2 separate regions of the Homo sapiens genome follow, and region 1 is linked to region 2. Evidence: fine-mapped expression QTL. A gene starts in region 2. The other region holds a variant in brackets. All regions are shown on one strand. Distances are between the middles of the regions.

Region 1 (4,249 bases), 43 kb after region 2:
CATCATGTGTCTGAAGAGGCTGAATTATGACCGGAAGGAGCTGGAGAAGAGGCGAGAGGAGAGCCAGCATGAGATCAAGGGTAAGCTCGTCAGGCTTGGAGAGGGTTCGGGAGCAGCCTGCTTGGCTGGTCCCTGCCTTGGGCCAAGTGGAGGGGAGGCATTCTGTGTCTCAGGGAATCTTCCAGTCTGAAAAGGAAGATGCAGCCTCACCTTAGGGAGCTCCCAGTCTGATGGAGGAGACATAGTCCATGCCAAGTTGTCTATAATTCCCCTCCCTCAACCCCACATACCAGATAGCAGCCACCAACTGGACAAATGCAGTGAATCCTCTGGGACGGTGTTATAGACTGGTGTGCCTGTGGAACTTGTTGATCTGGATGGGGCTGGATGGGAGATGCAAGTCTTAGAGGAGACCTTGAAGGTGGAAAGAATAAGAAGGCCATTCCAGCTTGGGTCAGGGGGATGACCCGTGCAAGGGTTCTGGGGAGAAAGCTTGGAGCCTGTTGGCCTGACCCCGGGTCCTGTAAACTGGCAGGGATGGAGTGAGTGGGGGGTTGGTTCCCCAGGCACCCAGGTGCCAGGGAGGAGAGAAAGAAGATATGGAAATTTAGGGATGGAGTGGGGGTCAGAGAGCAGGGTGGACTGCGGCTCTGGGTTTAGGGAGCTCTGCTTCTGTCCTTGGAGGGCCCTTGATGAAACGTAGTATCTCCTTCCGTCCCTTTTCTTCCCCCACACTCCAGATGTGTTAGTCTGGACCAACGACCAGGTGGTTCATTGGGTCCAGTCTATTGGGCTCCGGGACTACGCAGGAAACCTGCATGAGAGTGGTGTGCATGGAGCCTTGCTGGCCCTGGACGAGAACTTCGACCACAACACACTGGCCCTGATCCTCCAGATCCCCACACAGAACACCCAGGTGGGCAGCCTTTTAATCAGTCAACTTGAGTCTCTCCCTGTATCCCTCACTTGCTCTCTTTCTTTCCCTCATACACAAAGGCTTAGGTATCTTGGGGGGTGGGGAGCTTTTCTAGGGCCTATGCCAGAGGGGATCGCAATGTCCTCAATTCTCCAAGTGATCGCTGTGCATAAGCAAGCCCTCATGGGAACACATGGCCTTCACATACAGAGCACACCTAGCGTGGGCCTGGCACACAGTGTGCTCTTACAATGCGCATCCCCGTCCTGCCCTGGGTACCTCTATCTCCTCCTAACCCCACTTCATAGCTGAGACTCTGAGCCTTCCTTTTCATCCTGCTTCTCTGATCTGACTTTTCTTAGAGGGGAATGAGCCCCAGGGCCCCTAGGGACCAGAGAGCCCATATCACCTTTGTCTACCACCCTAGGGATCTGCTCCTGGGCCCCCAGCCTTAAAAAAGCTAAATATACCAAATTACACAACCCAGAGCCTCTCCACACCAGGGCTTTGGCTCTCTGTCAACAGCTCAAATGATTAAACATCTCATGAAATTACATTTCATCATTTTTATGGAGCTGTCATCTAAGAATATATCTAAATTCTCTTGAACCTATTTATATTTTTGGCCTTTCTAACTTCCTGTGGGTAATAGATTCTAGAAGTACTGCTTGTTGTGTAGAGTACTTCCTGATTTTATTTGT[C/T]CTGAAAATGCCCCTGTCAGGCCCCTGGGGAAGGAACTACCTCCTCTTGATGGTTTAGGTTTGGTAAGGATATTTGTATTTAACTAGTTCTCACCTTTTATGATTTCATAAACTCTGATTGTATTGCCTCTGGGCCCAAGCCTTTGTCTCTCCAGACGGAGTGTTCTTAATTCTTTTAGGCTTTCCTCATATAGACTCGCCTCTGTCCCCTGATTGTTTTAGCTGCCCTTGTCTGGACTGTTTGCAGCTGTCAGATCTCTTTTGAAATTCAGCCACCAGAGCTGCACAGGCTATTCTGGGAGCAGACACGTTTTGGCTTGAATGAGGGTAGGGCTGTGTTGTCTCGTAATTCTGGGCAGTGTGTTGGCCTTTTGGGGGTGGTGGCAGTGCACAGGGCCATTGTGTCCTGTAGGCATTCTGCAGTGACCCCCCCGCCCCGCCCCCACCCCAACCAGTCAAAATAGATAGGACAGATCCCTTCATTCTCCAAGAGGAGCCTGGATTTTTCCCCCAAGTGCGTTCTCTCCACTTGCCCACTTCGGGCAAGCCTCGTCTGCCACTTTGCTGCCCACTCACCTCTCTTTGTGAGACGCTTCTGAAATTTACACCTATCCTCCTCACCTTTCACTGCCCAGAGGAGCAGTGTCATTTGGATACTTGAAATTTACTGTGCTTCTCCTTTCAGATCATTTCTAAAAATGTTATGTTCCCAATACTGGCACAGACTGTCCTTATGGAACTCTACGCTTAATATTTTCTACCTAGAAATGGACTTTTCTCTTTCTTTGATTTCCTATCTCTAATGCATTCAGTTTTGGAGGATAGCAGTAATTCTGTAAATAGTAGCAGGGACACCTCCCTATGGCTTTCTAACCTTTCTTAATTTCCTGACCCCGTCATTGAGCTTAGCTGTTGGGAGAAGTAGTGTGTGACCCAATACGGAATCCCTCATTTAAAATGGTTAAAAATGGCTCGGTGTGGTAGCTCAGGCCTGTATGCTCAGCATTTTGGGAGGTCAAGGTGGGAGGATTGCTTGAGGCCAGGAGTTTAAGACCAGCCTGGGCAACATAGTGAGACCCAGTCTCTACAAAAAGTTTAAAAAATTAACTGGGTTTGGTAATGCGTGACTGTAGTCCCAATTACTCGGGAGGCTGAGGCGGGAGTTTTGCTTGAGCCCAGGAGTTTAAGGCTGCAGTGAGCCATGATTGTGCCACTGCACTCCAGCCTGGGCAACAGAATGAGACCCTGTCTCCCTCAAAAAAAAAAAAAAAAAAAAAGGTTAAAAATATCTGGTAGCAGTTTTGAAAACTTTTCTGTTTTTGGCATTTCTGAAAACTCTGAATGAGTTAATCTCCTGGGAGGCCTAGAGAGAGTCTGTATGCACACAGCCCAGGGACAACCAGTATCCACAGCTGAGCAGGCTTCCTAATTTTAAGTTTTTGATGTGAAAACTTATCAGATATATTTATTTAATCCAAATCAGTCATGTTCTGGTTATCCATGGTTTACATGCTTACTTACCCCTCCAGAAAGAGAAAGACAGGCACAATTTTCCCCTTTCAGACAATTTTTTTTCCAAGTAGGTGACGTCTCTTTATCTATGTGTTCTATGATCCCACTTTTTTGTTTTTTTTTTTTCTTAGAGACAGGGTCTTGTTCTATCACCCGATCTGGAGTGCAGGTGTGATCATAGCTCACTGTAGCCTCAGACTCCTGGGATCAAGCTATCCTCCTGCCCAACTAACTGGTAGCTGGGACTGTAGGTGTTCACAACCATGCCCAGTTAATTAAATTTTTTTTTTTTTTTGAGACAGGGTCTCAGTATGTTGCCAAGACTGCTATTTTTTTTTTTTTTTTTGAGACAGAGTCTCACTCTGTCCCCCAGGCTGGAGTGCAGTAGTGCCATTTCGGCTCACTGCAAGCTCCGCCTCCCGGGTTCAAGCAATTCTCCTGCCTCAGCCTCCCGAGTAGCTGGGACTACAGGCGCCTGCCACACCATGCCTGGCTAATTTTTTGTATTTTTCGTAGAGACGGGGTTTCACTGTGTTAGTCAGGATGGTCTTGACCTTCTGACCTTGTGATCTACCCGCCTCGGCCTCCCAAAGTGCCCGGCCACTACTTTAAAAAAAAAAATTATGTTGTTCTAATTTGCTGTATATGAAAGAATCCTAGGCTTACAGCTTTACTTATGAGTTTGCTTGAAGGAGCAGCTTCAAAAAGGTGTGTAAAGGCCTCTAATGGGCTAAATGCACTGGAGCCTTGCATCTCTGACCTTGGACCCTTGGAAAATGGTGAAAGATGGCATAAAGGTAGTTAACTATAGCCCTTCCCACCTTTCCCTCTCCTGCTCTATGGACTGCAGGCACGCCAAGTGATGGAAAGAGAGTTCAATAACCTGTTGGCCTTGGGCACAGACCGGAAGCTGGATGACGTGAGTACCTGGCCATGAATTAGGAGCCTTGGGGATTTGGTCATCTTCGTTGGATTGAGGTTCATGAGTTCTGCCTTCCCTGGGCTAATTGTTGGAAGGCTAGTCTATGGGAGGAGAGCCAGAGGGGATGGGGATAATGTCAGGGGGTTGAGGAGGTGGACCAGCCCTAGAAGAACTTGTCTTGGGTAGTAATAGGCTGTC
Region 2 (4,249 bases):
TTTTTTACCATCTTCCCTAGGAATATTCCTAGAAAGCATCTGCTTAATTTTGCTGCTAACAGCTAACCTTATCCCACGTTGAGGGTGGTATTAAAACTGTTCACACAGAGTGAGCCTGGGTCAGTCAAAAACAGAATTTGGGCATTTGAGTGATAACAGACAACCTAAGGACAATGAGCACTTTGCAGATCTCTACAATTAAAAGTTGCCTCTTTGAGGCAGGAGGGGAGAAGCACAGTCCCTGCCAGGTTGCCTGAACTAAAGATGCCATGGAGCAGGAGTGTCTTGGTGCATTGTTCCCCGCTTAGGAGTACCTTTAAAAAGGGGGTGAAATAAATTTGGCTTAATAATTGTATTCTGACTCAGCTCTGAGTTTTTTGTGTCAAATTCCATGGTATGGTGACAGATACAGTACTAGATACTGCCTCAGCTCTCTCTCAGCATAATATTGACAAACATTTGGTAAAATGTGTTACCAGTCGTTATCTTGGCTTCAGCCTTCCTCTGCATTGGCTGAGTTGCCGTTTCTAGCATGATACATGCTTTATTAGTGACAGGATGTGAAGTGTCTCAGGGATTTCCTTTTGGTGAGGACCCCAGACCACCCGAAGAAGAATTAGAACTTTCTGGACTACAGGTTATATACTGTGATTTTGCTCTGTCAAGCAACATAAATTGATCCTTGAACGCTGTGAGAGTTATGGACACAGACCCTCACACAGTTGAAAATCTGCTATGACTTTTGACTGCCCGAAAACTTAATAGCCTACTGTTGACTGGAAGCCTTATTGATAACATAAACAGTTGATTAATGTGCATTTTGTATATGTAGTATATACCTTATTATAATAAGCTCGAGAAAAGAAAATGTTATTAAGAAAATCAAAGAAGAGAAAATACATTTACTGTTCATTAAGTGGGTCATCATGTTGAGCAGGCTGACGAGTAAGAAGAGGAGGGGTAGTCTTGCTGTCTCAGGGGTGGCGGGGAAGGAAGAAAATCTGCATGCAACTGGCCCTGTGCAGTTGAAGGCCCTGTTGTTCAAGGGTCACAGATTTAGCTTCACTTACCCACCCCTCAGATCAGAATTACTCAAGATTTCCCTGTCTTCAAAGAGACGCAAGGAAATTATGCCAAATGGTGAATATATTGGGTGGAAGATAAATGAGAGAAGGTTGTATGTGTCACTGATCTCAACTATAGCATTTGCTGCTGATATAGAACATGCTGTGTATATATCTATAAATACACACACATGAACACATTGCATGTATATAAAAATTGTTCACACTTTTAGTGGTGCTTACTGGGTATTGGTAAAGGATTGAGTAGGCACTGTGATGAAACTTCACAAAGCAGATGGAAAAGATGCATTAATAGCCACAGGGGGCAGGGTAAGGGAGCAATTCAGGAAAATGGAGAGGCTTAGCTAAAATTTGTCAGTCAGGAATTTTGGCATTTGAGACTTGTTTTCATACTATGTATATGTAATAGACAAACCCTTCATTTTGTAGTAACAGTGTTAGAACAGCCAGGTGCCTGAAGGCAAGCGACACAATTCACTGAAGAGCATACTACAGATGTAGTATCCGGATATCAAGTTTCCCCACTTAAAAAATGGGTGCGATCAAAGGAAAAGCAAGGAACGGGCAGGAGAGCAAGCGTGAAAGGTGACAAACTTGACAATTACAAGGCCGAGACTAAGGCCAATTTAGGGAACGGGCTGTTAGACTAGGAACAAGGGCGAGTTCAGAGGGAGGGGCAGAATGTGGGCAGCACTCCTGGGCCCTGAGACCCTTCTGCGGAATAAAACTCTGGCACTTCGCCACCTCCTAGGCTGAACCAAGATGGCGCGCGGCCTCAAAGCGGCGCTCTCGTCACGTGCCCGGACCCGAGGCGCTTGGGGGCGGGAGGCGTGGCCTCGGTCGCGGCAGCCCAGCCCCGCCTAGGGGGCGGAGCCGGGGGGGGTTGTCCGCGGAGGAAGGGGGCGGGGCCCCGCGGCCGCGCGCTTGGGCGGCGGAGGCTGCAGCTACCTCGGCGCCGGCTCGGCTCTAGGACGTGTCGGGCTGCACGGGTCGGGGGCGGCTCCCTGCTGCTTCCGAGCCTAGCCGCCTGGCCTTCGGCATTTGCAGGCAGGTGAGCGCCCAGAGCCTGGACTGGGGTAGGATGCGTCTTTTCCCCATCTCCAGCTCCCCTCGACAGTTTGGGGAGGGGTCTCGTCTATCGCACCTCGGGAAACAGCCCTTTTTGACTCCGTATGTGCTACCTCCGGCAGGCGTCGGTACTGCTTACCCTGCCGCCCCTCGCCCTCCTTTGCGGTGCCCTGTGCCCTTGGGGGTGAGGATAGGGGCGATGCCTGATCTGCGGGGAGGGCGTGGAGTGCGCCCTCTGCTCCATCGGCTTCAGGGGAGGGGGCCGAGTTGGCGAGTCTCCCGGTGGGAACGGAGCAGACTGCGCCCCCATTTCCCCTCCAGGAGAGTCAGAAAAAGCGCCTCTCGGCTCCGGGGCCAACCCCACTCCTTTGGGGACGCGATTCTGATGGGCTGAGGTCTTCGCTCTTCGCGGGGGTCTTAATCTTTCCCGAGTTGCTCATAGCACCCCTGTTCCTGTCGCTAGCTCTCCATTCCTCGAACTGCCAGCCTCAGTCTGTGCCAGAGATGCCCCCATCTCCGCAGTGCCAGGGCGGTGGGGTGGAAGGAGCGGCCAACCCGAGGCCTGGTGGGGGTGGGGACAGGGGTGGGCGCAACAGGAAAAGAGGGCTGGAATAGAGATGCCTGAACTGGGAGGGTGGGAGTGGGGCGCTGACTTACGTCCACGCAGTAGGGATGTTTTCCAGCGCAGATTTTGAGGTTTTGATGGTGGGTGGGAAGAGAGAGGTCGGGCTGGAGGACTTGGAGACATGGTGTAGGTGGTTTTCTTCGAGAAGGAGGAGGGATCCAGGACAAGGTGCCACTAGGAGCTGATGTCACCTTTGAGGAGAGGTGTGCTGGTAGTTTCCATCAGAGGAGCAGGAGAGTTGGGGCCGTTCTGTGTGGAGAGCAAGTGGTTAAGGAGGCGCTGCTTCGCAGGGAGATCCCCTCCTGGTGTGAGCTTAAGGGTCCCCTCCAGGAGCCAGGTTTCAGGGATTTCCCATAGTCCTTTCCAGAGTTCTTGGATCTGGTACCTAGTACTTTGCTCAACATCCAGCAAACATTTGTTGGACACCTACTATCTGCCAGATACTATGCTCGGTGCTAGGTCTTCTGAAGGCAATTTACAGCCACGGAGTAGCTGAAAGGTACACATAGGAGGCACACATAGCAGGTATTCTGTTAACACCCTTCTCACCGCCCATCCCCATTCTGTTACATTGCTGTTGGATTAGAAAAAGAAAGAACTGTGTCCACGTGCTTTCAAACAGCTGTCTGAATTAGACTCCAACCTACACACCCCCTACCACTATTAACTGGCCAGGTAGTCCCAGGGAAGCTGCCTAAGCAAAAGGGCAGCTTGAATGATTTCCCTTGGTTATTTTCTCAGATTTTGTCCTGAGGCTTGAGGAGGCTTCGTGGGGTAAACGGTATCTCAAAGTAAGGAGATAATGAATGACAAAATGGTTATTGGGGGCCAAGAATGTCCTAGACACTCTGTGTAGTGGGAGACGCCATCTCTGGAAGATGGAATAGTGTGGGGGAGGAGGGTGTAGAAGGGAATTCGCATCCAGTGGAGTTGGGGTTTGTGCTGCTGAGCATGTCGTGATGTCAGAACCGTGTGGTGCATGAGGTCTGGCTGCTGGGCTGTAAAGGAGGGCTGGAGGGGCAGGGCATGGCAGGCAGCCAGGCTCCTGGGTCTCATCTCTGAGTTGATTGCTGAAATCTTAGAGTTGGAAAGAGTTGTCAGGGATGGCTTATAGGTCCTCACAGAGCCTCTGAGGATGGCAGAGCTAGAGCTAGGCAAGAGAATGAGTAGTCAGGCTGTGGTGGTGATGAGGTGGGGATGAAGGCTCAGCAGGGCTGGGGAGCTGGGTGTTAAGGGGGTTTTAAGATATGGGCAGCTAGCCGAGGCCTTCGAATGCCAAGGACATTCTTCCCTGGGCTTTAGGCCCTACTGTGTTGGCTCCATAGGTGAGTTGCTGTAGAAACAAGGTGTGGCAATTGAGTGGTATGGGGTGTGTGTGTGTGTGCACACGCGTGTGTGAGTGTGTGTGCTTGTGCATGTGTTGGAGAGGAGGAGAGGTGAGGAGCAGGGAGGACTGAGGGAGTGAAAGCTG

Evidence for each region.
Region 1: its variant is fine-mapped to the expression of PPFIA4 in whole blood (TOPMed, PIP 0.91).

What each region holds. Positions count from the first base shown.
Region 1 is chr1:203,067,713-203,071,961 of GRCh38, forward strand. It overlaps PPFIA4 (PPFI scaffold protein A4), which reads left to right. Exons shown (of 30, transcript NM_001304331.2): 26 at 1-80; 27 at 741-916; 28 at 3,980-4,048. Among named protein-coding and RNA genes, the nearest start is that of MYOPARR, 14 kb to the right of the region's middle. RefSeq lists an enhancer at 1,755-1,804. The variant C/T (reference allele first, on the strand shown) is at 1,618.
Region 2 is chr1:203,024,494-203,028,742 of GRCh38, forward strand. PPFIA4 (PPFI scaffold protein A4) reads left to right here and starts at 1,998. Exons shown (of 30, transcript NM_001304331.2): 1 at 1,998-2,136. TMEM183A (transmembrane protein 183A) reads left to right here. Exons shown (of 8, transcript NM_138391.6): 8 at 1-355. RefSeq lists a silencer at 1,788-2,097 and an enhancer at 1,924-2,445.